Linked DNA regions of Homo sapiens. The protein of the gene in region 3 interacts with the protein of the main gene of each other region in a pairwise test. Each region holds a gene or a part of one and is shown on either strand. Other genes may lie near its edges.

Evidence for each region.
Region 1: the proteins of ZBTB14 (region 3) and TXN2 interact in binary tests that used the Homo sapiens proteins (3 or more experiments, as listed by UniProt).
Region 2: the proteins of ZBTB14 (region 3) and EPM2AIP1 interact in binary tests that used the Homo sapiens proteins (3 or more experiments, as listed by UniProt).
Region 4: the proteins of ZBTB14 (region 3) and BAZ2B interact in binary tests that used the Homo sapiens proteins (3 or more experiments, as listed by UniProt).

The regions. Positions count from the first base shown.
Region 1 is NC_000022.11:36,466,265-36,472,227, forward strand, and holds the end of TXN2 (thioredoxin, mitochondrial precursor), read right to left. Parts: intron 1,654-5,963; coding exon 1,540-1,653; 3' UTR 782-1,539; downstream 1-781.
Region 2 is NC_000003.12:36,989,264-36,996,942, reverse strand, and holds the start of EPM2AIP1 (EPM2A-interacting protein 1), read left to right. Parts: upstream 1-3,811; 5' UTR 3,812-3,865; coding exon 3,866-5,689; 3' UTR 5,690-7,679. Other genes in the region: DNA mismatch repair protein Mlh1, read right to left, coding at 234-324, 3,280-3,395.
Region 3 is NC_000018.10:5,292,420-5,300,309, reverse strand, and holds the start of ZBTB14 (zinc finger and BTB domain-containing protein 14), read left to right. Parts: upstream 1-4,583; 5' UTR 4,584-4,658; intron 4,659-4,888; exon of another isoform or gene 4,889-6,129; intron 6,130-6,308; 5' UTR 6,309-6,338; intron 6,339-6,982; 5' UTR 6,983-7,063; coding exon 7,064-7,066; intron 7,067-7,890. UniProt on the Homo sapiens protein: Transcriptional activator of the dopamine transporter (DAT), binding it's promoter at the consensus sequence 5'-CCTGCACAGTTCACGGA-3'. Binds to 5'-d(GCC)(n)-3' trinucleotide repeats in promoter regions and acts as a repressor of the FMR1 gene.
Region 4 is NC_000002.12:159,319,137-159,327,004, forward strand, and holds part of BAZ2B (bromodomain adjacent to zinc finger domain protein 2B), read right to left. Parts: intron 6,783-7,868; coding exon 6,517-6,782; intron 5,819-6,516; coding exon 5,675-5,818; intron 1,283-5,674; coding exon 1,129-1,282; 3' UTR 1-1,128. UniProt on the Homo sapiens protein: Regulatory subunit of the ATP-dependent BRF-1 and BRF-5 ISWI chromatin remodeling complexes, which form ordered nucleosome arrays on chromatin and facilitate access to DNA during DNA-templated processes such as DNA replication, transcription, and repair.

The DNA.
Region 1 (5,963 bases), on a different chromosome or scaffold from region 3:
CAGAGGCCACGGGCCCCTCTCCTCCCTCGGTCTCGGCAGCCTTCCCAAGGCAGTCCTTGGGTGGGCCCCTGGAGAATGCAGACAGTTCTAATAGAACAGGGTGAGCCTCTGAGAACAGAGCAATACCAGCCCCATGGCATCCCTGGGGCCACGGAGTAGGGTGTCAGGATCCCCCTGCCGCCAAGCACCTGATTCACAGGAAGCTGGGGCCTCATCCAGGCAACCGAGCCCTAATGACAGCTTGGCCCTAGGAGCAAGGCAGACGGAAGGAAGGCTTTCTTGACTGGCAAGCCTGGCTCCCTTGGCACACTCCTCTATGGCCAAGGGGAGCTGGGGGCCAAGAGGGGTTGTCTGGTCCCAAGGCCCAGAAGTTCCTGCAGGCACCCATGGGAAGGATAGCCTGATCCCCACAGGGCCAGGCACCTGCTGGGGCAGCCAGGAGCCCTGTCAGTTGGGGAGGCCTCAGAAGGGTCAAGGGGATCAGCTGTGGGAGCCCAGGTTTCAGAGGCAACCACGTCTGGATAGAAACCCCAGCTCTGCATCCCATGAGCCACAGTGTCTACATCGGGGTAATGGGGACAACAGCCTCTTGCCTTAGGAGGGCACGAGGACTGGCACATGGCATCCTTAGAATAGCAGCCACTGCTGACAAGCATGTTAGTGAACAGGAAGGGCTGGTTGGAGAGAGTGTTGTGGAGTTAGGGGAGGATGTGGGGACAGTGGACAAGCCCCCTGGGAAAGGGTGACAAGTGCTCTGAGCCCACACAGATGTGACATTGCAGATGGTGCAGACCCTTGCTTTATTTGTCTGACTTGTTCACAGTTCAGCCCCCTGCTCAGAAAACCAACGGGCCAGCTAAGGAGAGGAGGAGGCACCTTGAGACTTCCGGAGTCGAGGCTCTCCAGGGTTCCCCAGCCCATCAATCATTTTCTGCACCCCCTGCCTGGGAGGCAGCTCCCTGGGGGGTGGGAATGGGTGACTAGAGGGGATTTCAGTGTGGGACCCAGGGTCTGTTCTTCACAGTAGGAGGTGGAAGGGATGACTAAGTTCTTTATCACAGACCTACAAAAAATGAGATAATTAGATATTACTCTCACTAGTTTGGGCTTCTTTTTTCTTTTTCTTTTTACAAAACAGCAGCTGGAAAGAGAAATGTAGGTGGCAGACGAGCCAGGCACGAGGTTTCAGATTGGAAGGGACCAAGATGAGGACCAAGGTGTGGCTGCCTGACTAGGAACGCTGTGGGCTGGCCCAGGCTCTCGCCACACATCCTGGGAGAACTGCCATAGGCCCTAGAAGGAGGGATGAAAGGCGTATGGGAGGGAAGACAGCGGTCCCCGGATCAGCAGCAGCACCACCATCCTCTGATGGCCCCTGGGCAGTCCGCCAGCTCGGAAGCACTCAGGGCTGGAGCCTGGGCTCTAAGCATGGGCCCCAGGAGCCAGACAGGAGGGAGGCAGCAGGAAGGGCTGGCATGGAAGGGCTGAGTTCTATTGGGGTCCCACGCGGGCAAGGGAACCAGGACTCATCCCTGCTTGTCAGCCAATCAGCTTCTTCAGGAAGGCCTCCAACTGATCCTCATCCTTGATGCCCACAAACTTGTCCACCACGTCCCCATTCTTCATGGCCAGCACAGTGGGCACCGCTGACACCTGGGTGGAGAGGACAAGGGGGTCCAAGTGAATTGGGAGTGAATACTTCTCAACTGCCACTCCTGAGCCTTTGTGGGGAAGGCTGGTGGCTTATCCAGGGCACTGACTTCCCAAAGCCATGGGCAGGCCTAGAGGAACATGGCTCTTCTCTCGGTGCAGGGGTACTGCAGGGCCCGGGGGCCACCCGCTGAAGAAACGTCTTCCATTGCGGGCTCCCAACAGTACCCTTCCTCCCTTAACCACAAGACTGACTCACTGGCCCAGTGGTTTTGCTGGAATGACAGGAGAGATGAAAATAACCCTTGCAGCTGCAGGCCAGGGCTGGGGGCAGGGAGGAGCTCAGGGGAAGCCTGGCCCAGGAGGAGACAGAAGCTGGGGGACAGTTCGAGTCCTGGCTTTGCACTCACTAGCAAGGGGGCCTTGGCCGGGTCACAGCACCTTTCTGAGCCTCAGTGTCCTTTTCCATAAAATGGGGGTAATGTCTACCTTTAGGGTTTGGGATGAACATTAAAGATTCAAGTATAGGCTGGGCACAGTGGCTTATATCTATAATCCCAGCCTTCTGGGAGACTGAGGCTGGAGGATTGCTTGAGTTCAAGAGTTCCAGACCAGCTTGGGCAATATAGTGAGACCCTTTGTTTACTAAACCCCCCCAAAATATTAGCCAGGCATGGTGGTACATGCCTGTACTCCCATACTCGGGAGGCTGAGGCAGGAGGATCGCTTGAGCCTGGGAGACTGAGGCTTCAGTGAGCTGTGATTGTGCCACTGCACTCCAGCCTGGGTGACAGAGACCCTGCCTCAAAAAAAAAGAGAAAGATTTGAGTATAAAGCAGAGCTCAGGCTGGGCGCGGTGGCTCACACCTGTAATCCCAGCATTTTGGGAGGCTGAGGTGGGCAGATCATTTGAGGTCAGGAGTTCGAGACCAGCCTGGCCAACATGGTGAAACCCTGTCTCTACTGAAAATACAAAAATTAGTCGGGCATGGTGGCAGGCACCTGTAATCCCACCTACTTGGGAGGCTGAGGTGAGAGAATTGCTTGAACCTGGGAGGTGGAGGCTGGAGTCAGTGGAGATTGCACCACTGCACTCCAGCCTGGGTGACAGAGTGAGACTCCATCTCATAAATAAATAAATAAATAAATAAATAAATACATAAATAAAGCAGAGCTCAGGTTCTGGCGGACGCAATCCGGCTCCTACCAGCCAGGTGAGCTGGGGCACGCCCCTCAGTCACTAAGCCTCAGTGTTCTCAGATGCAGGATGGAGATACTAAGGGCACTGCCATTAGAGGGCATGAAAGCTGAATGAAATAACGCAAGTAAAGGCTCAGCACAGCGCCCGGCAAATAAGCTTAGGAACCTGGCATTGTGCCTGGCATACTGTGGGCATTCAAAAAACAGTGGCTACAGAGGGCACAAGGAAAAGTCCAACACAGGCCCCACGAGAGCACATTAGCTTGCTGCTGTGATGAGTGACAGGGTCCAGAAACTCAGGGACTTCTACTGGACAGCATGAGAGGAGAGGCTTGGCCATACACAACCTGACGCTTATTAGCAGGTTGCAGGCAGATGGCAAGGACAACATTCTTGGTCTGTGAAGCATTTACTCAGTTCCCTCAGGGACCTGCATAGGTTATGTGGAACGTGGATGAGGCTGTGGCCCACCAGACTGGCATTGTGAGGTCTCTGCTGCCTGGGATCCCTGCCTGGCATTCGTGGGCATTTGAGAAAACCATTTAAACAGAACAAGATAGGCCGGTCGCTGTGGCTCACGCCTGTAATCCTAGCATTTTGGGAAGCCAAAGCGGGCAGATCACTTGAGGTCAGGAGTTCGAGACCAGCCTGACCAACATGGTGAAACCCCGTCTCTACTAAAAATACAAAAATTAGCCGGGCGTGGTGGGGCATGCCTATAGTCCCAGCTACTCGGGAGGCTGAGGCAGGAGAATCGCTTGAACCCGGGAGGCAGAGGTTGCACTGAGCTGAGATTGTGCCATTGCATTCCAGCCTGGGCGACAGAGCAAGACTCTGTTCCCCCCCTCAAAATAAATAAATAAAAATAAACAGAACAAGATAAACACAGACTTTTCTTACATACAAATTAAACTACAAAGTAAGAGCAGAGATTCACACAAACATACCAGGTCTTCACATATCCCAGTGCTGCCCTGCCACGGCCCATCTTGGAAGCCAGTAAGATTCAGAATGTTCAAAAACCATGCACATGGTAGTTAGGAAAGGCACGCAGGCCAGACCATCCCGCCCTCACCCACTAACTTTACGTGGCAGGCCCTGCACCCCACTCCTCACGGACACTTTGGGGACAAACACAGCAGGTCACAGGACACAGTCCTTGTCCTTGTTAGTGCCTCAGGCCCCTTCAAAGGCTGTCCCTGGGCTGATGTGGGTGGCAAACCCTGTCTCCAGGCAGAGCAGGGCCCGAAAGAGTTTGCTCCAGGAAGCGCCTGAAGCCACCAGGGCCTTCCCAGGCATTCTTTGGTGCCCTCTAGTGGTCTGCAAAGGCAGCTGGAGTGCCTCAAAGCCGGAGCCTCTTGGCAGAAGCAGAGAGCTCAGCCACCGGCTCCCACCTGCACACTGTCCTATTCCTTTAATTAAAATATATGCTTTATGCCACTGTATAAGAAGTGGCCTAACTTTTTTCACGGCAAGACTCTAAGTTCACTGAAGAGGCTCAGAGAGTGGACTTAGCGTTCCTTAAGAACTCCAGATAGGCACAAGCACAGTGGCTCACACCTGTAATCCCAAGTACTTTGGGAGGCCAAGGCAGGAGGACTGCTTGAGGTCAGGAATTCATGACCAGCCTGGGCAACATAGCAAGACGTCGTCTCCATAAAAATATTAAAAAAAAAAAAAAAGAACTCCAGATGAAGGCCATAATGATCTCACTCATGTAAACCTCCACACATGCTTGAACACGCACAGACCCTGCTGGTGTCAGGTAGACAGCAGATGTGCTGTCAATGGAGGTCTGGTCACTACTGATCAAGGGGATATTTTGAAGTTGAGCTTAAACACACACACGCATACACACATATATACACACACACACATACACACTACCCGCACTAGGGGCTCACAGGAAACCTGAGCTGGAATGGGACTTCCCTCGACCCTGAGGAGGCGGCTGAAGCTCTGCTGCTCCTGTGTCTGGCTCACACATCAGGAGGTGCCGGTGCCTGTAAACACTGCCTTACATGGAAGTGCACAGGGCCTTGGCACATTCTTCTGGAATGTTTTGAGTGTGAAAGAGGCAGTGACTGAGCCAACTGAGGGGCTGAGGAAAAGATACGCTACGACGTGTTGCCTGTCCTGTTCCGTGAAGCCACTTGGAACCTCCTATCCTTGGATAAAGACCCTCTGAACTCGGCAGGAGTGGGGGAGTGTGTACGTGTGCGCAGTCTCTTTCTGCTAACCCGTAGCTCGCCTGCACCGCCACTGAGCTCCGTGTCCTGGTATGTCTTCTCCTGTCCCACCCCGATGGCATCCATCTGTTAACTCAGCTAAGGGCCTACCAAGGGAAAGGCACAGTGCTGGGTGCTGCGGGATGTTGCAACCTCCTCCTCGGCTCATTGCAGAGTTAAAAGGAAAAGATCGCTGTCACATGCTGGGTGCTTTTTCGTGTCAGGAATGATATAAACACCTCTATACACTATCTCACACTCTCCTGGCTGTGGGCAGGATCATTTTAACGATGAGAATACTGAGGCTCAAAGGGTGAGCAACTGTTCCAAAATGATGTGGTGTAGGACAGGCGCGGCAGCTCCTGCCTGTAATCCCAGCACTTTGGGAGGCTGAGGAAGGTGAATCATCTGAGGTCAGGAATTCGAGACAAGGCCGGCCAATGTGGTGAAACCTTGTCTCTACCAAAAATACAAAAATTAGGCCGGGCGTGGTGGCTCACGCCTGTAATTCCAGCACTTTGGGAGGCTGAGGCAGGAGAAGTGCTTGAATGCGGGAGATGGAGGTCGCAGTGAGCCGAGATTGCGCCACTTCACTCCACCTGGGTGAAAAGAGTGAGACCCCCTCTAAAAAAAAAAAAAAAAAAAAGCTGGGATCTGAAACAAGATCTGTTTGACTTTGCAGTCCAGGGGATCAAACTCTGTTGTGCTTCTGCCCAGCAGCAAAGAGAGAGAGACATCTACTGAGTCCCAGCAGGGGGAAGAACGTGGGGACGCATTAAAGGATTTCATGCTTCAAATGCAAAATGCCAAGTGCTTTGTAAAAGCTTTTAGATATGAGAGGGTTCTTGGAAAAACGATTATTGAAAAAATGAACTACATAACATT
Region 2 (7,679 bases), on a different chromosome or scaffold from region 3:
CCACCACTATAATGTAAGCATCAGAAGAGAATAGATTTTAATCTATTTTATTCACTGACACATCCCCTGAACAGTGCCCAGCAAATAATAGGTACTCAATAAATATTTATTGTTGGTGTTGAATTTTTCAGTGAAAAAATCCCATCTGCAAAAGCCTAGTTTCCAGAACAGAGAAAGGTCCTGACTCTTCCATGAAGCGCACAAACATCCTGCTACTTTGAGGTTTTACTTACCCTGATCCCGGTGCCATTGTCTTGGATCTGAATCAACTTCAGGCCTCCCTCTTTAACAATCACTTGAATACTTGTGGATTTTGCATCTAAACTGGCAAATCAAACAGAAAATAATTTATCAGTCTGCAACTACTCTAATGTACATATTTTAATATGAGCCAAGCAATGATAACAAACTCCAAATACAAACAATAGTGCCTCATTAACGTGTTTTTCCTTTGTCTTACAGGCTCATACACTGTATGAGTTTACATATTGTGTGAGAGAGAGGGAAGAGACGGGCAGAGCAACCATCATTTCTAATAGGACATTCAGCACTATTTCTGTTCCTCTAGGAAAGACAGCAAGTGAAGTTAAAAATAGATTTCTTTTGGCAGATGTCTCTTCTCAACTAATTTTACTTTTACCTGAACTTTATTCAGCCTCAGGTTCCTAAGTGACTCTAATAAAATGTCACTAAATAATGTCACTAAAAAATAAAATTCTGAATGATTTTCTCTACTATTCCCTTTTATATTTACGATGGAGGGGAAAAAAAAAAGTAATGCAGAAAGTTAATAAATCTTTAGGAAGTCAATGAATTTTCTGGCCAGGCGCAATGGCTCACACCCATAATCCCAGCACTTTGGGAGGCCAAGGCGGGTGGATCACCTGAGGTCAGGAGTTTGAGACCAGCCTGACCAACATGGAGAAACCCCATTTGTACTAAAAATACAAAATTAGCCAGGCATGGTGACGCATGCCTGTAATCCCAGCTACTCAGGAGGCTAAGGCAGGAGAATCACTTGAACCCAGGAGGTGGAGGTTGCGGTGAGCTGAGATCGCGCCATTGCACTCCAACCTGGGCAACAAGGGCAAAACTCTGTCTCAAAAAAAAAAAAAAACCCAAAAAAAAGAAGTCAATAAATTTTTTGTGCTTTCAAAGAGTAGCCTATAAGCACAGACCAACTGCTAGAGAAAACAAATTTTCTAGCAGGGGCTGCATGAGAAAGAGTTATCTATTCCCCACACAGACAATTCTTTATTCAGAAATAAGATAATAGGCTGGGCACGGGGGCTCACACCTGTAATCCCAACACTTGGGGAGGCTGAGGTGGGCGGATCACCTGAGGTCAGGAGTTCAAGACCAGCCCGGCCAACATGGAGAAACCCCGTCTCTACTAAAAATAAAAAAATTAGCCGGGTGTGGTCATGCACGCCTGTACTCCCAGCTACTCGGGAGGCTGAGGCAGGAAGATCGCTTGAAACCAGGAGGCAGAGGTTGCCCTGAGCCAAGATCACGCCACTGCACTTCCGCCTGGGCAACAGAGTAAGACTTCATCTTAAAAAAAAAAGAAAGAAGACAATAAGTTACTTAAATATTACAGACATTTCTCATGAGCCCCTGTATTGAAGTTGTATTAGTCATCTCAACTTATATATTAAAAAGAGTATAACTGGACTCCATATAAAAATCTCCACTTGAGCCGGGCGCGGTGGCTCATGCTTGTAATCCCAGCACTTTGGGAGGCCAAAGCGGGCAGATCACCTGAGGTCAGGAAATCGAGACCATCCTGGCTAACATGGTGAAACCCTGTCTCTATTAAAAATACAAAAAACTGCAGGGCGCGGTGGCTCACGCCTGTAATCCCAGCACTTTGGAAGGCTGAGGCAGGCGGTTCACCTGAGATCGAGAGTTTTGACACCAGCCTGACCAACATGGAGAAATCCCATCTCTACTAAAAATACAAAATTAGCCAGGTGTGGTGGCACATGCCTATAGTCCTAGCTACTCGGGAGGCTGAGGCAGGAGAATCTCCCTTGAACCTGTGAGGAGGAGGTTGCAGTCAGCTGAGATCGCGCCACTGCACTCCAGCCTGGGTGACAAAGTGAGACTCCGTCTAAAAAAAAAATAAAAAAAAAATAAAAATCTCCACTTAAGTAATTAATTACAAGCCACCAAGCTAGTATGTTTAGTTTTGTTTTACAGTATTCTGGCACAGTACAATAATAGGCCCAGTTGTCCTGTCAATTCATTCTAACACAGTAGAAACAAAAGCCAGTCTGCCATTGCTTCTGTTACTACTATTACAAGTGAAAAGGAAAAAACATCCCCAGGTTCTTGCTCCTTCTTTCATCTACCTTCCAATTCTCTTCCTTTCCTTCAGTGGTCCTTTCTACCCACTGTTCTCTCAGTCCCATTGCCCTGAATAGTTTATACTTTCACAATAAATCCCTCTAGAAACCTACCACTCCAAACTGAAGCATTCTTTTTTCTATTAACGTACGGACGTCACTAACAACTGATTTTAACAAAATAATCTGACATAACGTTTAGGTGTATTTTGGGCTTGTCTTTTTGGAAGTTTATAGTCTGCACTCACTTTTCCTTCCACATGTTTCAAATCTCTTCCCTTCACATTTTTTGTCACAGTTATAAGCTTCAAAATCCAAGGATGACCCATAAAATCTGGTATCTTCGAAGTGCGTCCTCCGAAATAAAGGACAGGAAAACACTAAGAGGGGTCACTAATTTAACAATAGGGTAATCAGAAGTCAAGCCCAAAGTGCATCAGCCTGTCCTAAAACTACAAACGATTTGTTTTGAAAGAAACTCAAAATGAATTGTGCCTTTGGATGTGAACAGATGATTTCTGGAATGAATGAAAAGCAAGAAAACAGTAACACAGTACCCTCTGAAAAAAGGTTTTTCTCCCCATCTTAAGCTTTTATACATCTTTTAACTTCGCATGTTCTGCATACATAATTTTAAATTAAGTGGCTTCCTTACTTAGTTAACGGTACCATTAAGACAACACTACGTATATTCCTCCACTTACACTCCAAACAACCCTTAAAAGGTCTCGGGGGAGAGCGGTAAAGAAACACACGGTCTGCGGAAAAGGAGAAGGCCTGACTGGCACGTCAGGGAACCCGGCGGCCTCCGCCGTTGTGGGCATGCGCTGTACATGCCTCTGCCCGGGCAAAGAGGCGTGTCCGCGCCATTGAGTGACGCGGCCCGTTAAGTCGTAGCCCTTAAGTGAGCCCGGCTCGACTCCCTCCGTACCAGTTCTCAATCATCTCTTTGATAGCATTAGCTGGCCGCTGGATAACTTCCCCCGCCGCGATGCGGTTCACCACTGTCTCGTCCAGCCGCCGAATAACCCCTGCCACGAACGACATTTTGGCGCCAGAAGAGCCAAGGAAACGTCTAGATGCTCAACGGAAGTGCCTTCAGCCAATCACCTCAGTGCCTCGTGCTCACGTTCTTCCTTCAGCTGTAGCTTACGCCATCCAGCCCCACCCTTCAGCGGCAGCTATTGATTGGACAGCTTGAATGCCAGTCAAATTTCTCAACTCTGTGGGTTGCTGGGTCTCTTCGTCCCTCCCTGAAGCGGCTACTGCCCGCTACCTAGAAGGATATGCGCTTGCGCGTTAGAGATCGCTGTCCGCTCTTCCTATTGGTTCGTTTTTAGGAGCTCGGGGAATACGAAATATCCAGCCAATAGGAGCAGAGATGCCGGAACCGGGCTTGTGTGCCTCTGCTGAGGTGATCTGGCGCAGAGCGGAGGAGGTGCTTGGCGCTTCTCAGGCTCCTCCTCTCCCCTTGCGGCCTTTCTAACGTTGGCCCTGCTCTTGTGGCCTCCCGCAGAATGTGGATGACGCCCAAAAGAAGCAAGATGGAAGTCGACGAGGCTCTAGTTTTCCGGCCCGAGTGGACCCAGCGTTATTTGGTGGTGGAGCCTCCGGAGGGCGATGGGGCCCTGTGCCTGGTCTGTCGCCGCCTCATCGTAGCTACCCGCGAACGCGACGTCAGGCGCCACTACGAGGCTGAGCACGAATACTACGAGCGGTATGTGGCGGACGGCGAGCGCGCGGCCCTGGTGGAGCGTCTGCGTCAGGGCGACTTGCCCGTGGCCTCCTTCACTCCTGAAGAGAGAGCTGCTCGTGCAGGCCTCGGGCTCTGCCGCCTCTTGGCCTTGAAGGGTCGCGGCTGGGGTGAGGGGGACTTTGTATACCAGTGCATGGAGGTGTTGCTGAGAGAGGTACTGCCCGAGCATGTAAGCGTCCTGCAAGGCGTTGACTTATCTCCAGATATCACAAGGCAGAGGATCCTGAGCATTGACAGGAATCTACGCAACCAGCTTTTTAACCGAGCCAGGGACTTTAAAGCCTATTCTCTTGCCTTGGACGACCAGGCTTTTGTGGCCTATGAGAACTACCTCCTGGTCTTTATCCGCGGTGTAGGCCCTGAGTTGGAGGTGCAAGAAGATCTTCTGACCATAATCAACCTGACTCATCATTTCAGTGTTGGTGCGCTCATGTCGGCAATCCTAGAGTCCCTGCAGACAGCAGGGCTTAGCTTGCAGAGAATGGTTGGACTGACCACGACCCATACTTTGAGGATGATTGGTGAGAACTCAGGACTCGTCTCATACATGAGAGAAAAGGCCGTAAGCCCCAACTGTTGGAATGTCATTCATTATTCAGGATTTCTTCACTTGGAACTGTTGAGCTCCTATGATGTAGATGTTAATCAGATCATAAATACCATATCCGAATGGATAGTTTTGATTAAGACCAGAGGCGTTAGGCGACCTGAATTTCAGACTTTACTAACGGAATCTGAATCAGAGCATGGTGAAAGGGTTAATGGACGATGTCTGAACAATTGGCTTAGGAGAGGGAAAACTTTAAAACTAATATTCTCTCTAAGAAAAGAAATGGAAGCGTTCTTGGTTTCAGTAGGGGCAACAACAGTCCACTTCTCAGACAAACAATGGCTTTGTGACTTTGGCTTCTTGGTGGACATTATGGAACACCTTCGAGAACTCAGTGAAGAATTACGAGTTAGTAAAGTCTTTGCTGCTGCTGCCTTTGACCATATTTGTACTTTCGAAGTTAAGCTGAATTTATTTCAAAGACATATTGAGGAAAAAAATCTAACAGACTTTCCTGCCCTCAGAGAAGTTGTTGATGAGCTAAAACAGCAAAATAAGGAAGATGAAAAAATATTTGATCCTGATAGGTATCAAATGGTGATCTGTCGTCTCCAAAAAGAATTTGAGAGACATTTTAAGGACCTCAGGTTCATTAAAAAGGACTTAGAACTTTTTTCAAATCCATTTAACTTTAAACCTGAATATGCACCTATTTCAGTGAGGGTGGAGCTAACAAAACTTCAGGCAAACACTAATCTTTGGAATGAATACAGAATCAAAGACTTGGGGCAGTTTTATGCTGGATTGTCTGCTGAATCCTACCCAATTATCAAAGGGGTTGCCTGTAAGGTGGCATCCTTGTTTGATAGTAACCAAATCTGTGAAAAGGCTTTTTCATATTTGACTCGAAACCAACACACTTTGAGTCAGCCATTAACAGATGAGCATCTCCAAGCCCTGTTTCGGGTTGCCACAACTGAAATGGAGCCCGGTTGGGATGACCTTGTGAGAGAAAGAAATGAATCTAATCCATAAGGCTTTGTAGTACAAGATTGAAAAACTCAACAAGAATTTAATTCTAAAAGCAAAAATTGGTTTGAGTTTTCAAGTTTACTAATTTGGATTGTGAGAAAGTACCAAGTACCAGCCGTCCAAACTGATCACAATTAAAATTCTGACAGTTGCCTTTTTTTTCATCTCAAATGGCAGCATGGGACTGAAACATGAGAATGCCACCTTTTTTAAAACTTAGTTTAGTGACAAAGTCATTGTCTTTTATGATATAGTTAATTTTAAAGAGATTTAGTATTAATGTGAGTTGAATTTGCAGTCTGTTTTTTAGGTGTTCTGAAGATAAATGCCAAAAATTTCAGCTCTTATTTTAATGGAGTGTTAAAATTCTGATTCATATAGTCTTAAATTATCAACTCCTTAAATGTGCTTTTGAACCAATTTGCAGAAGCTCACATAGCAAGTTCATAAGTTTCCAAAAAGGAAGCCCATACATAACAGTGGAGGTGTTTTGTCTAACCATCAAAATGTTTGAGACTTTTTTTTAAACATTTCTGAGTTCGAAGGTAATACTGACAGATTTCTTCCCTCTTCCCTCCCCATCACCCACCTCAGTGATAACACATTACTGATAGAGGAAGTCATTAGAATCATTTTTAAGTTTCAGATATAGGAGACTTCATGCAATTTGGAGATAAGACTAATTATTGGGGGTTTTCCTTGGATTTTTTTTTTAATAACTGGGGGCTATTTTATCAGCTTGCCTATTAAAGGACTATGGTAAGTATAGAATCTTAATGGTTGCCAGTTAGTAATTCTTTTTTTTTTTTTTTTTACTGTAGACACAAGTTTGGCCCTATCAAAAACGATGAGGAAAAAAGATTGCACTCCAGGATTAGGAGGTGTGAGATATTTTAGCTTTTTTGTCTTATCTGCGTGGGTATTGCTGCTTTATTTTAAAAAATCCTGCCTAAAGTAAACACTTTGTTTTAAAATGATACAGTATCAGATTTTGTTAGATGCTAGAAATGGATTTATTCTAAAATTTGGAACTGTCGTACACATTCTATATGTAAGATAGCACACAAGTAGAAATATTTAAAAGCAGTCTTATTCACAGATTGCAGTAATTCTGTATTTCTACTAAGATAATCTGCTTTGTGCCAAAACAGTAATTTCCAAACTTCTGTTCACCATGAAAAGGCAATCTTAAAGTTCATTATGTAAAACTAATTATAAACAGGACCCAATTTATATTCATAGATCCTCTCAAGTATTATACAATTTAAAAACTCTTGTTCCAAAGTCCTGTCTTAACTATTGAAACACCTTAATCTGTGGTTACTAATCCAGCAAATTCAAGGAACCAGGCTATGACTAAGAATTTAGGTGGAATTGATGTCTGGGCAATTAAAATAAATGGCATAAGAGCTTAAAAACCAAAGTTGTGCCAGTGGCTTTCAACTAGAGGCAGTAACCTGTCATTCCAGAGGATGCTGAGAAATGTGTAGGGGCACTTTTTTGGTTGTCATATTTACTAGGGGCTTCTGTTGGCATTTAAGCCTAAAGACACTCACCCCTGCAGTGCATGGGACAGCCTGGCACAATGAAGAATTAGCCCTCCCAAAATGTAGATTATTTTATTTCAAGGGATAGGGCAGATTACCATTAGAAGCAAAATTAAAAGTACAAGCTGGGCAAACTGACAGAATACTAGATAGGAGAGACTAATTCCAACCTTCTAAATTTGGCTAGTAAAGTGCAATAAAGGCATTGATAAGTTCTGTTAGCTCACCATAGCACTTGTAAATCAGGAATTAATAATTGAATCAGATTTAAGGGCTCTGTCCTGTTATACATATTTAAGGCAGAAAAAAAGTTACATGTCGATTAGGTACTTATCAAGAATGGTCAAGCTGAGATTTTGGTTAATAGAGTAAGCTTACATATCTAGAGAAACAACATAGTGGAAAACCGAAAAAAAAAAACAGAAAAATCTACCGGTAATTTCCCA
Region 3 (7,890 bases):
AGTCTTAGCAAAGAAATAGAAGATATAAAGAAAAATACAATGAAAAAATTTAAAACTGAAAAATACAAGTGAAACAAAAAAACTCACTGGACAGGCTAAATGGCAGGGTGGAAACGACAAAAGAACAAGTCAGTGAATTGTAGAGAATCAATAGAGACTATTTCATCTGAACAACACAGAGAAAATATTTTAAAAAATGAAAAGACTTATGGTCCTATGACATAATTTTTAAAAAACTCAACGTTCCTGTCATTGGAATCTCAACAAAGGAGAAATAGTATGCTGTTGAAAAAAAATGTGAAAAAAATAATAGCTGAAAGCTTCCCAAATTTAGAGAAAGATATAAATAAACCTATGTATTTAAGAAGCTCGGCAATCCCCAAACAGTATAAGCAATGAAATCCCTACTCAGAAAACACCATAATCAAAATGCTGAAAACTAAAGACAAAGAAAAAAATCTTGAAAGTATCTAGGAAAAAATAATTACATGAACAGGAATAATTTTCGTTTTACAATAATATTGGATTTATGGAAGAGTTGTCAAGATAACACAGAGTGTTTCCAGAAACTCTTCACCCAGTTTCCTCGATGTTAACCCAAAAGGCAATGAGGAAATCTAAATGACCAGGTTCCAGAGGAAGAAGAAACAAGTGTCTGGTGCCCAGAGACGACCAGATGCCCCACCAGTTCTGATCCATAGGAGAATGATCGTTCCACATGGCCAACTCCATCCTCATGCAGCAATTCCTCCACAAGCACAAGACAAGCTTGTCCTGATGTTCCTTGCCCTGGCAGATGTTCAGGACCTTCCTTTGATTCAACCCCTCCACCTAAATGGCCCAAGCTTTCGGGGCTGTCATTGTGAAGACCCCTTCCTATAAACCACAAGGCCCTACAGGTGCTGGACACTGTTGTTCTCACAAACACATCTCATGTCCACTTTTGCAGAGACTGAGGTACTTCAAGCTCCTTCCACCCTTGCATTCACTTTGTTCCTGTCTCTGTCTTGAAATGCTATTTCTTCCCCCTCTTTGCGAATCTCTCCCTCATCTTTCAGGTCTTAAATGTATGCCTTTGAAGAAGCTTTCACTGATTTCCCAGGCAAAATTAATTCCTCCTGTTCCTCTTTTTCATCACATTCTGTGTTTTTTAACTTTCTATAAAAACACTTATTGCAATGTGCAATTGTGTAACGATGTGATTATTTGTTGAATGTGCACATCAGTATCTCCATGATGACACGGATTGGATCGGGTTTTTGTTCATTTGCTGTATCAAGTGTTCTCAGAGTCACAGGGGGAAGGTGGTTATGGCATTGGGTGTGACACTTTTCCTTGCACAGATGTATTAGATTTTGTTCAGTAACAAAGCATAAAACCCAACCTCCCAGTGGCTTATAAAACAAACATTTACTTCTCAGTCATAGGTCTGTGGGTGAGTTGTCTTCTCTCTAGGCTTGGCTGTGCTCAGGTTTTGGGTTGGCTTCATTCTCAGGTCTGTTTGTCATTCAAGGGCCCAAGCTGAAGAGGGGGTTGTGGCCTAACCATGGTCGTGTTGTGCTGGACGTCACAGCAGAGGAGGAGGCGCAGAACAAAGGCTGCTCTCAAAACCTCTACTCAGACCCGGCCCACTCTCATCTGCTGGTATCCTGCTGTTTCAAAACCAGCCAGAGGGCCCAAGGTCAACATGAGGGAGAAATCAACCTCCCCCGCCTGTGAGACATAATGTTTCCAAACGGTCCCTTACTGGGCTGCTCTGTAACCACATCAGACCCTGGCACCCGGGACTGCACACTGCGGGCCCCATGGCCTGGGCCTCACAATTCTTAGAAACAGGTTCCACTCAGGAGGCCATGGGTGTCCCAAGTGAGGAACAACGTGCTCCAAATGTCACCCATCAGAGTTGTCGGAAAAGGAGGAAAACTTTGTCAAGGACCTTGGGTCAGTGCATTTCAGGAAAGCCCTGCCCCCGCGTTGACGCCACAGTGTACTTTTACAAAGCCCCTTAGTATCAAATTCAAGGTTGTCACTTACTGTCCGCTGATGTTTATTGAAAGCCTCTTGGGTGCTGGGAAGTGCACTTTTGGGTGGCGACACAGGCGAGAAGCCAGGCTTGGGTCAGGCCTTTCCTTTGTGGTTTCCCATCCCTCCACCTTCCCACAGAGTTGTCCCTTTAATTTAGACTCATCCCCACAACCCCTGTGAACCAGCAAGGGACAGCCAGGCAGAGCCCAGGTGACATGAACATAAAACAAATGAGACAAGAGGATTCATTGATACAAAACCAGGATGTCAGGAACCGTCACTTGAGAAATGCATTCTAGTGCTTTAGAACTCTTGTGAATTATGTTATCGGGTTAGTGGAAACGTGGGAAGTCTTTTCCTAGCCATATGCGAAAAGATTGTCTTTACACAGTAGGCAGACCAAAAATACACGCAGAATGAGTGGGAAACCCCATATGTGGTATGGGAGAAGGGGGAGCGCCAGCAGCAGATGCGCCATGACTTGAGTACTGGCCGTGTCCACACATTGTGCTAACTGCAGTGGCTGCTTTACTGCTTGGTGACGCAACCCTATGACAGAGTACTATTATTATCCCCCTATAAACACACAGCATCCACAGGATTGAAATGCAACTTCAAGAGCTACGCAAACAAGAATAAAGCGAGTACACGGTATCATGTCTGATGAGTGTGAACTTTCGTGGCAGAAGACTTGGTTCTGGTTCTGTCCAGGCCACTGGAACCCACTATCTGTGGGTGCAGGTGATTTTCCATCATGGAGCTAATACCTTAGCTGGGCATTATTTCACTTAATCCTTACAAGTGCCTTATTAGGTGCTTTCCATAGCTCTCCTTCAGCTGAGGTTTAGAGAAGTTAAACAATTTACCCAATATGTGAACTGGATATGTCTGACTCTACAACCGGTCTCTTCCATCCTATTTCCTCCATATAAGCCGTAACTTGGGTGCTTTTGTGAACATCAAAAAAGATGCGTATAAAGTCGCCTTGGGGAACGTTAAACCAAAGTCAATTAACATTACAAAATCAACTGAGGCCATATAGAACTTCCTTTAGAAAATTAACACATCCAATCATCATATTATTTCCCAAATGTTTACTTAGGTGCCTGTTGCAAGCACTATCTTATGTCATCTTCAATAAGCCCAAGAGGAAGCTTCTGCTCTAATCTTTAGATATTAAATTACGCGTTTCGGGGAAACTTCGCGTGTGAGGTAAAGCAACATGAGCGACTCTAAGGCGGCGCGGCATTGCTGTCCGGCCTCCTGCATCTCGGTGAGCAGAAAACGCGGGAGCGGGAGGGACTTCCCAGCTCCCGACGCCAGACACAGGCACAGCCGCCGCGTCAGAGGGAAGGCGACGTGGTTCAACAGCAACGGAGCCATTACTGGCGCTGAGCAGGGATGTTAAGGACAGAGCCAAGTTATCAGAGCTCTCCGAATCGAGTCCAGGGTCTGGACTGCCACAGACGGGTCGCCGCCTCCAGCCCCTGGACTTTTCCTTGGAGTGTCCGGGCGCGGACCTACTAGCTCCGAAGCCCTATGGGTGATCCCTTTCTGCTGGGCAACTGGGGTTGCGCTTTACACTACAAATCGAAGACGTCGCTTTTTCCATTTGTTCTGCAAGTGTTTATTGTGCACCGTCCACTCCCCCACAAACTCAATGTGCCGGCGGCAAGAGGCAAGACCGCAGACCCGTGGGCGCGCCTCCCGGTGTCGGCCGGTGTGCGCGGAGGGCGAAAGTGGCCGGGGCGCCCGCTCCGAGACGCGGCAGAGCCCCGCAGCCTCAGCGCCCGGCCTGCGCGCGCCCGGGGGAGGCTCTGGCCCACGCACATGCACACGCACGGGAGCGCTGGCTCCCGCGTCCCCGGCGCTGCGCCGGCGCCGGGCGCGGGCGGAAGCCCACGAACCAGGGCGGGAGGGAGCTTGAGGCGGGGCGGGTGTCCGCGAGCAGCGCTCGTGCTTAAGTTCCCTGGCTCCCGAAGCCCCGCCCTTGCCCCGCCCACTCCTTCTCCCGCGCGCGGGCTCCGCGCGCCCCAAGCCGCGCGCGTGCGCGCGCGTGCGCAGGCCAGGGCCCTCCGGGGGCGGCCCCGTAGTCTCCAACGAAAGCGTCGGCAAGGGCCCGGATTAACCCTTTCTTTGCTCGCCCACTTAGAGACCCGGTCGGGTTCCGTGCCTGCGCAAGCCGGCGGCGCGCCTTCCCCCCAGCCCGCACCGCGCATGCACGGGAAGGGGGGGGCGGTGGGGGTGTTCACGGCCGGCTAGACATTCTGTGCTCGTGCAGGAGGAGGGCTGCTACCATCAGGGACGTGCACGATTTCCCCCACCCCGCCCCCTCCCCAAACTCCAAAAAAAAATCCAAAACACACTGCCACCCACCGTGCCCCCGCGCCCCGAGCCCCTCCGGTCCCGGCCTGCGTTTGCTAGCGAGCGCGGGGAACCCACGGCAGTGTCTGTGCCTGTGCCAGGCTGCAGGTAAGCGCGGGCCAGGGTGCGGAAGGGGCTGGGGCCGTCCGCAAGGCGGGCGCGGGGGCGGCCGGCGGCTGGCGGGGCGGCCCGGAAGACGCGCGTTCTCGCCGAGCTCTGGGGCACCAGCCAGCTCCAGGATGTGCGGCGGCCGCCAGCGGCGCGGCGCGGTGCGAGCGGGGACGGGCGTGGGCCAGGGTTGGGCGTGGGGCCGGGGCGCCCCGGGGGCCGCGCGGGCCGGCGAGCGGGCTCGGGGAGCGGCCAGGCGGCGGCGGCCCCGCGCGCGCGCTCGCAGAGCCTCGGCGGCCGAGTTCATGGCCGCCCCCGCTCGCACCGCCGCAGTGCACCGCGGTGGGGGTGGGGACGGCCCGAACCCAGCGCGGAGCGCGGCCCGCCGGGCGCCGCCCCTCCGAGCCGCGGGCCCCGCCGCGCCGCCTACAGCCGCCGGCGGAGGAGGGGGCCGGGACCCAGCGCACGCACTCCCGGGTGCGCCCGCGGAGCTTGGGTTAGCCGGCCGCGCGCCGCCCCCGCCCCCGGCCGCGGGAGGGCGGGGGAGGGCCCGGCGCGAGCTGGCCGGGGAGTGCGCGGGGCGCGAGCTCCGGGCTCGCGGGCGGAGCGGGGCGCGGCGCGGCGCGGGGCTGCGGAGCCGGCCGCACGCCCGCTCCCGCTCGTCGCGCCGCCGGGGCCGCCGCGGGCCGCAGTCCCTCCCTGCGCGCTCCGAGCCGCGGTCCCAAGCCTGCGCTCGACGTCTGATTATGAAAGGGAAAGTGGCCCTTTCACCACCTGGCTCCCAGGCTGGGAGCTTTTGTCTGGGAAGGAGTGCAAACGGCCTCCTCCACTCCCCACCTCCCAGGCCCAAAGAAATTGAGAGGGAGGACTCGATACGCCTTGAGGGCTTCTTGGGTCTGCGCTTGGCTCCCTGCTTCCTCCCGACTCCGAAGTTGCAAGCTTGCAACAAGGAAGTCGTGCAGCCGCCATTGTCGGGCTGCCCGGGGCAGGGGAGGCGGCTGCAGCTGCTTATGTAAGTTTTTGGCTTTGCGGGAAGCCCGGCTCCCTGCACTGTAACGCGGCTTAGCGCGCCCGCAGTTTGGAGAGCAATTAGGAAGGGGCAGCCTTATTATGAAGGTGGTGTTGGGGCTACGTCTTTTCCTACACCTGCCTACACAGATGCTGGCAACAGCTGTCTTCCAGTTTTGACTCACCTGAACTGAGCAATTGGACATCTCAATGGCAAGGGGGGCGGGGCGGGGAGGAGGCGGCTTTGGACACACATGGTCTCTCTTCCAGGTCTCATACATCTTGAGAGAGAGAGGGGAGAGGGGCGAGTGGCCAAGTACACACTAGCCAAAACAACAACAACACATTGATATGTTGTCATAGCTAGTCTAAGGCCACTCCTCTCTCTGGTCCCATGCACTTTTATCCCACAAGCCCTAGGACGAGTTAGTGACAACAGTAGTAAGTGTCACAGTGTAAGGTTTTTGCTGGGCTGCCTAGCCTCTGGATGATTACAGGCCTGGGTGCTTCTAGGGAATAGAGAGGCAGAAACACGTAGAATGATCAAGTCAGAATCATCTTTTGGAAATGTTGCCTAACCTCAAACTTCAGATGAGACATCCCGCTTCTACGCTGGGTAGCTCGGTGTGTTCACTTTTCTTTAGAAGGAGCTTATTATGGGTTTCAAGGTGTTGGTCTCCAGGTTGGAGTCTTGTTCCATGGTTTTTGTGTAAGACTGTTACAGCCCAGTCCTTTGCTCCTACCACACCAAACAACTTATCTGTGTGGTCACTGTTCAGTAGAGGAAACTTTTTGTTTTTCAGGATATGGGTCTGCAGGATGGAGTTCTTCCGGTAAGAGTTAAAACTCACAAAAAAGCTGAAATTCTTTCACCCTTATTGTAGGGATAGAGGTAAAAACACCTGGATTTATCAAATACAATCTTAAAAACAAACGTGTATGCTATTAATACATCACACAGGTGCAGAAAGAAAAAGCAATCATTGTTCCCTCTCCTCCCATGTTACCTGTTGGGTTTATGTACTTCTATAGCTTTATTTGTAAGGTATATACTTCTATAGGTTTGTATGAGCCGAGAGAAAAATGTAGAGGGCTAACATACCCAGCGGGAAATGGGATAGGTGTAGGGGGCACGGTGCACTTGTTTTTTTCTATATCTGTGTAGCCATCAATCTCTGTACAAATATGGACATGAGCTTAGTGTGTGAGGAGAAATCCCTTAATGGTTCTCCAACCCCTCCTTCCAGTTCCTAGGGCACAGCCCCTTTATGCCCGAGTGCTACAGCCCTTATCTGTTCTAGTCCATATCTGTTCAGAACTGCACTTGATGTACCAGCTACCTACCTGCCACTCTCCCCAACCTGAAAATGCACAAAAGAGGGAACAAGAAAGTTTATTTTTAAAAAATCAATTCTTGGTTTAGGATTTGGGATACAGGAAGATCCTACCTCATTCTTGTTTATCCTTTCCTCTGTAGGTCTGGCGTGCTCCTGATCAGAGTTACTCTGATCTGAAGATTTTGGCGTTCAAGGCATTAAGATAATAGCCTGAGTTGTTCATGGTAACTATAACTTTGGATATTAAATCTTGATGAAAATGACTTGGCATTTGCTTTAAAATATATATACCAATTCTGATTGTGCATGAACACTTCTATTTGTCTGGGGGAAAATATTAGCCGAATAAAAGTAAAACAATGTTTTTAAAAAGGAAACATAGAGAATGCTTTAAGATGACCAGTTTTTTAACATGATGACAGAGATCTTTCATGCCAGTTCCAAATTTTTGCTTATAAAATACTCTCAGCACTTATCAAGTACTTACATCTGGTGTTGATGGCACTTTTATCTGGATGCAGGTAGATTGGCATCTAGAGAGAACAAAGCCACTTCCCAAATGTCATCTCATTCTCTTAAGGTCAGATTAAACCTTGACCTTCATTTAGAAGTGGCCCAAAAGTGCTGTGGAAAATCTAGAACACAACACTCAATGGGATATTTTGGCAGTAATGTTCCTCTCTAGTTCTGCAATAGTAATTTGTTCCTTCTGTCAAGGAGGTATAACATAATTATTTTGCTGAATCCTCCATAGAGTAGATGGAATAAGAGTAGGTGCAACAGAGAGGACTAGAGGATTGTTCCCTTGAACCTGTTTCTTAAAACTTGAGTTTGAGTTATTTGATTATCTCTAGTCAGGAAGCACTGGTTTTGCAGCCAGATTGTCTGCATTTAAGTCCCAGCTCTTCACTAAATAGCTATAGAATATTGGGCAGATTTCTAACTTTGTCTCTAAAATAAGGATAGTGATACGTACTCATGAGGTTACCTGAATATTAAATTAATTAAAACATGTAAAGCACATAGAACAATGCCTGGGATATAACTA
Region 4 (7,868 bases), on a different chromosome or scaffold from region 3:
AGGCCACCACAACACACAGTAGATAAAACACAGTGGTTACAAACGTCTTTTAAATTTATTTCTGAGGCAAGGCAAATGGGAGGGAAATGTTTCTATGAAAAAATACTGTGTGCGTAGGAAATTGTCACAATTTTATTCCACATGGATACAAATGATTATACTTTAATTTAGGCCCTGGTGGCTTAAAATTATATAACAAAATAGAAAAATGGAAAACTAATATCCCCTACACCCTGTTTCAAAGGCAGGCACTACCAAGATTAAGGAGACGCCACAGTGTTGGTAGAGGATAATTACTGTACAGACTGTATAGCTATCATTACCTTCAGACGAAAATAAAATGCTACAATCCTCTAAGGCATGAACAATAATGTCTGCAAACAATATATACACATAATACATATTTAAAACAAGACTTAATATAAACAAGAATGAACAGTATATACATGTCAATTTTTTCACTGTTTTGAAATACAATTTAACTACACAAGTGATGCAGCAACATATATATATAAATGTACTTGTAACTCTACAGTAAAGTTTCTTTTTGGTGCTTTTATAGCACATCAGTGTAAACAGTTTAACTTGGCTTTGTTTTATATTTTAAAACATTCCTTGTATTTTCAAGATTTAAAGCAATTTTCTAGTTCTTCCTTTTCACAGAAAACGAAGATTCTGGATGTGGTTTAATCATAAATAATTCATAAAATTAAATACATTCACTAAAAAATAAACTACAAAGTAAAAAAATGAAAAATAGATATTTATTGAGAGGGAAAGGAGAACCATTTCCCACATTAGAGCTCTGGTGTTGAGTATTCAGTGCGATTTGATATATTTTAATTGCTATTGCACTATAACACCCTTTCCTTTGAAAATTCTTTGGGTGTGCTTCCCTGTTCTACCTAAATTAGCTGATAAATCACACAAACCAATAACCGAGGGCCTTGGTTGTTGTAGGAATGAAGCCTTTAAAAATGGTATCATTCTTCTGATACTTTTTTTTTATACTTAAGGAAAAAGAAAGTCATTATGTATGTGCCTTGCACGTTTATGTAAATACAGTTCACATTGCTGGTCTCATTTGTCCTTGTTTAGAAGGAAAAAAATAAAGAGATTATTATAACTTCAGCTCACTTTGAAAGTATCTGTCCACTTTTTTTCAAAATACTTCCTCATATTGTGGCCAGCTCTGCCTATATCAGAATCATCTTCATTAAATGTTTCACAGTTGTCAAAAACAAGCCTGACATCTAGAGCAAAGGTTTCAAGGTTTGGATACCTGAAAGAAAACAAATAATTAGAGATTGCGTTCATAGAGTGGATTTGTTTTGTAAACAAATGAAGAGTTAATAAAGGGTAAAAATGAAAGAAAAATGATTAGGATAACTGCATTTAAATTGATATAAAATACATGATATCCTCTTACAAATGGAACATTTAAACATTTTTGTATGTTCTGGAACATACTGGATTTAAAGAACAGGTTAAATGAAAAAATAGGTTTCTCCAAAGATCAAAACATATTTCAACTGGCATTTTCCCCATAACCCAACTCCTGTTTGACCTGTATCACACAATTCTGTCACAGGACCTATCCCACTTGACTAGTTTATTAAGTTCTCTGACCAAATGTATCACTTGCAGAATCCTATTATCCATATTAAAAAATGCTCAGCTGCAGTAGAAATTATGTCAATGCTCCCCATGCAATGATAAAAATTACACTTGTCCTGTAGCTTCTATATACACCCCAAGATATGGTGCTCTGCGTTGTCTTCCCCATTTCCCATTTCTCTTCTCTTCATATGTGCTCTTCTGCCCAAGCAATAGAGTATGATGAACCCAAACAAGCAAAACAAGCATATGCTATCTTTCTACTAGAGGTAACATTATGAGGGTCTGTCTTTCAACAAGAAGCACTGTGGCTTCTGTGCTTTTCTGGCGGGATAAGCCCAATTCTCTTTCTCTGTAGAAAAACAGAAAAGAGAAAAGAAAGGTGAATGAATCTGCATAAGCTTATTAGTAAGAAGGGAATGGTCATTTCAAACCAACTCAAGCCAGTTCAATACATTTTAAAAGATAGCTTTTAGAAATGCAAATTTTAAGTTAATTCTAACCTATGACAATCTGTATACTAAAATAATGTAACCATTAAAAATATCTCATGAGTGTAAATTAGTACAACCACTATGGAGAACAGTTTGTAGGTTCCTCAAAAAAACTAAAAACAGAGCTACCATGTGATCCAGCAATCCCACAGCTGAGTATATACCCAAAAGAAAGGACATCAGTTTATGAAAGAGATATTTGCACTCCTATGTTTGGTGCAGCACTGTTCACAATAGCCAAGGTTTGGAAGCAATCTAAGTGTCCATCAACAGACGAATGGATAAAGAAAACATGGTACTTAAACACAATGGCGCACCATTCAGCCATAAAAAAAGAATGAGATTTTGTCATTTGAAACAACGTGGATCAAACTGGAGGTCATTATATTAAGTGAAATAAGCCAGGCACAGAAACACAAACATCACGTGTTCTCACTTATTTGTGGGATCTAAAAATCAAAACAATTGAGCTCATGGAAACAGAGTAGAAGGATGGTTACCAGAGGCTGGGAACTGCAGTGGGGAGGTGGGGATAGTTAATGGGTACAAAAAAATAGAAGGAATGAATAAGACCTAGTATGTGACAGCACAACAAGGAGACTATAGTCAATCATAGTTTAATTGTACACTTTAAAATAAGTAAAAGAGTAGAAGTGGATTATCTGTAACACAAAGGATAAATGCTTGAGGTGATGAATACCCAATTTTCCATGATGTGATTATTATGCATTGCATGCCTGTATCTCATGTAGTCCATAAATATATACACCTACTGTGTACCTGCAAAAATTAAAATAAAAATTAAAAAAAGAGAAATACCCTATGAGGCACTGACGCTGTGAGATCTTGTCAAAGTGGAATTCTATTTCTTTGGTGAAATATCTTGTATGACCTTTCACTCGCTTCTTCTGTGCGATAATGAAAGAAATATTTCTCTATGCGTAATGTGCTCACAGAGTTAAGTCAGCCCTTATGTAACCTCATCCATTTTCCTAGGAATTACTTGCTTATTTTTACTGAGGTTAAGAAATTCACATAAAATTAACCATATTAAGGTGGACAGTTCAGTGGCATTTAAGTCACAACACTGTATTATCGTCACTTCTAAAACACTGTCATCACCCTGAAAGGAAACATCATACTCATTAAACAGTTATTCCCCATTCCTCCCTCTTCCCAGTACCTGGCAACCACCAATCTTCTATCTGTCTCTATGGATTTATCTATTCCAGATACTTCATCTAAATGGAATCATACAATCTGTGTGGGAATGATTTTTACAAAATATTTTAAAGTTGATTTGAGAACTACTTCTGCCTTTGTTCCTTACCCTAAGAAAAGGTTAATGATTAACATTAGGGAGAGTGGAGTCCAGGAGAGAATTCTAGGTGAGATTCTAGGTGAAAAAAGTATACAACTCATATGTGTGTCCTTCCTTTATGGGATGGGGCAGCTAATGGAACTCAGAAAAATTCATGTAAGTAGGCCCCTCCCTCTATTCTAAAAATTTCTAGTTTAAAAATTTGAAATATGGTTTGTGAGTTTTGGTTCCAACTCATTAATTTGGGTTTAATCAAACAACTCAAAGTGGAGAGTTCGAGGAGCTTGAATCCACTGAAATTTTGCTTCCCACACACCTGGCATCACAAACAGGAATACACAGACTGTTTCCTTCTCTCTTTCTCTTCCCCTGTGACTTCCTCCATTCACTGGGACTCATTTTTCAAAGGAGCTCTGATTTTGTAGCTTTTTTTTTTTTTTTTGAGACAATCTCACTCTGTTGCCCAGGCTGGAGTGCAGTGGCGAGGTAACTCACTGCAACCTGCACCTCCAGTTTCAAGTGATTCTTGTGCCTCATCCCTGAGTAGCTGGGACTACAGGCATACACCACCATGCCCAGCTAATTTTTGTACTTTTAGTAGAGATGAGATTTCACCATATTGGCCAGGCTGGTCTTGAACTCCTGACTTTAAGTGATCCATCTGCCTCCACCTCCCAAAGTGCTGGGATTACAGGCGTGAGCCACCTTGCCTGGCCCATATGATTTTGTAGCATTTTTTTGTTATAAATATTTCTAAGCCTATTTGTTTTAGGAATTTTGAGGTTTACGTTAATCTTTTATCCAGGAATTGGAAGATCATGGAAGTTAAAATCAAGAGTTAATTTAAATACTAGTAAAGTCTTCATGTGTAATTCTTTTTCTTGGCCATGTTAGTTATAAATTTCATTGTGCCATCTACCTAGACAACTATTTTGATAGAACAAACAAAAGAGGCTGGGTGAGGTGGTTCACGCCTGTAATCCCAGCACTTTAGGAGGTGGAGGTGGGCGGATCACCTGAGGTCAGGAGTTCGAGACCAGCCTGGCTAACATGGTGAAACCCTGTTTATACTAAAAATACAAAAAATTAGCCAGGCATGGTGGCGTGCACCTGTAATCCCAGCTACTTGGGAGGCTGAGGCAGGAGAATCACTTGAACCCGGGAGGCAGAGATTGCAGTGAGCCGAGATGCACCACTGCACTCCAGCTTGGGCAACAAAAGTGAAACTCTCTCAAAAAAAAAAAAAAAGAACAAACAAAAGAACTAGTCCATATCTAGGTAACAGTGTTTGCATATTGGAACCAATCAGTACCAATCAATCATTTAAACGCTTCCTTAACTTAGGCAGGTCCCTTCTGTAATTAAAAAATAATAAAACAAAACAGACATAAACCTTTGGACGGCTGTTATTTCATCCTCCAAAGAAATAAATTTGTCATTTGGTCAATCTAGTAAATCAGTTGATATATGTGAGGGATGCTGATCATTATAAGTTCTATTTAACTCTTCTAAATTGAATATAAATCATAGAGAACAGTTATTTTCACCAAAAGAATGTATAGGAAGAACTAAATAATATACTGGATAATAACAATGTAATTAAAATATATATTGTATGAGTATCAGGAAAGCCTCCCAAAGTAAGTAACTTTATTCTTGGAATAGGATTGCAAAGAGAATATGGTAGAGAAAAGCAAATAAGCTTTCTCTCCCGCATTTAATAAATGGAATTTTGGTATTCTCCAATAACTCACATTAAAGCTCTTAATATGTAAAGCTTCCAAAGATCTTCTATTTCTACATTGTGATAATCTAACAATATTTGAGTCAATTTTTGTTAAATCCATATGACGTGTGGTTGATACTCCATGGATGCAAAATACAAATTCCGGCTTATATGTTACTTACTTTGGGAGGCTCTCCTGATACTTTTCCTTACCTTCAGCTTGGGTTTGTGGTGCTCTTTCAATGTCAAAAGCAGGTTTATTACACGGGTTTTTAATTTCTTAAATAATTTTAGTTGGTTTCTCTTCTATACTATTCTACTCTAACCAAATACACACACACACACACACACACACACACACACACACACACACACACACACACACACACACACACCTGCCTCAAAGGCAGGGCCTATATCTTGCTGTTAATTAAAATATCTTTGGCTCACTAAAAATATGCCTAGCATATATCAGGTATTCAATAAATATTTAGTGAACTGAAATGATTTACTTACTGTCCACTACTTAGTTTCTCTCTAATTGTGGAAAAATCCATAGGCTTCTTAATAACTTTCTTATAACCAGGAACAAGTTTCAAGTTTACAGGAAGTAGAAAAGGCCATGCATCCTCATGAGTTTCCATTTCAGTCAGAATCATACTAAAGAAAATAATGTTTGAAATCAGTATCCATACTTTACAACTGTCTTATTTTTTAATTAAAAAAGCTTTCAGTTATTATATATATATTATATATATATATATATTATATATATATATATATTATATATATATATATTATATATATATATATATATATATTTTATATATATATATATATATATATATATATATGAGATAGGGTCTTGCTCTATCGCCCAGACTGGAGCACAGTGGCACCATCTCGGCTCACTACAACCCCTGCCTCCCGGGTTCAAGTGATTCTCCTGCCTCAGCCCCTCGAGTAGCTGGGATTATGGGTGCACGCCACTATACCCAGCTAATTTTTGTATTTTTAGTAGAGACAGGGTTTCACCATGTTGGCCAGGCTGGTCTTGAACTCCTGACCTCAGGTGACCCACCTGTCTTGACCTCTCAAAGTGCTGGGATTTCAGGTGTGAGCCGCTGTGCCAGGCCCAATTATAATCTTTCAAATAAAAACTCAATGCAAATTAACATTAAAAGAAGATAAAGGAATACATTTACTATACTTTTACTTATATATTTTCTTAACATTTATGCTTTACATTTTTTTATTTACATAAATTATCAGAAAGAAAGCTTTAATATGGTAAAAGGTTTCTAAACAAATAAAATGGGGCATTATAAATATACAGTGCATGAAAACGGAAATAATACCTGCAAAGAGCTAGGTCCTTGGAGTCATCTCTTTTAGGTTTCTTAACTGAAGTAAAACTTTCTTGTTTTGACAAGTTAATAGAAGTGTTTTCCTCCATTTTTCTTTTCTTGAGGTCTTTGTTTCCTCTTTTTAGTGAACTACTTGTAGATGCAGAGTCTTCATCTTCAGTATCTCCTGTTAAAGTTACCTTCTTGCCTTTCTTTGACTCATTAGTCTTTTTTCCTTTGACATGAAGTTTTTTGATTTTTAGAGTTTGACCACTTGCCTTTAATTTAAAAAAAAAGTAAATGAGGTGTAAGAAAGTGACTGTCTACAGACCTATTATTTTAAATTATGAAAGTCTGACAGGACAAATAAGTAAAAAGAATAACTCTGATCTAGAATGTTGATAACTATTATTCTTAAGAAAGATCTGTGTATTTTTTCCTCTCATAATATAAGGATAAAATCTAATAAAACATGAAAAGTCTATTCATCTTAAGAATTCTTAAAACTTGAAGATGCTAATCTCATGGTAATTCATCTACAGAAGGTGTCTGTAGTATTCTTTCAGTCTAGGTCACTACTTGAATGAGTTTAAAGATACAAAAGAATTCTCTTTTGGAGCACAACAGAATTAGGAACAAAGATGAATATAAATGAAAATATAGAGATTGTTAATAAGAAAGTTGAAGAGGTAATAAAAAGCCAGGCCAAAAAATGAAAAAGAGCTAAGGAAGTGTCAAATAGAGAAGTCCAAGTGATCAAATCTACTAGAAATTGATTTGATTTTTTTTCCTGGATAAAAGATAACAGGTATTTGCAATAAGAAGAGAGTTCCACAAACTTGTGGTTCCCAGGTGTGAACAAAGCAGTGGTGAAAGATGGGGCAAAAAGATGTCTGTTTTTGAGAAAAACAACATAGAAAGAAATGACATAAAGGACATTATACTTGGAATCGAAGGATATGAATTCCAGCTATGGCTCTGCTACTAACTTTAAGCAAAAATATTTGTGAGGCCCTGTTTTCTCACTTAAAAAATAAGGATGACAAGCCACATACTTGCTAAAGTCATTCTAGCTCTAGAATTACATGCAAAAAAGAACTCTCAACATGGTCTTATGCAATATAACTACAAATTGCAGGCAGCACACTGATGCAACAAGAAGGGTGCCCCACCCTGTATTCATAGAGAAAAAAAATCTGCCTTTTGAGAGTTAAATGTTATAATAAATATAATAGATCATGAAAGAAAGATATGTAAACTTCTGGCAACGTATGGCTTTTATTTTTATTTTCCAAATATGTGGTACACACCAAACACTTTTAGAAAACTACTATTCCCTTAACCAGATTGTTAAGAAATCCTAG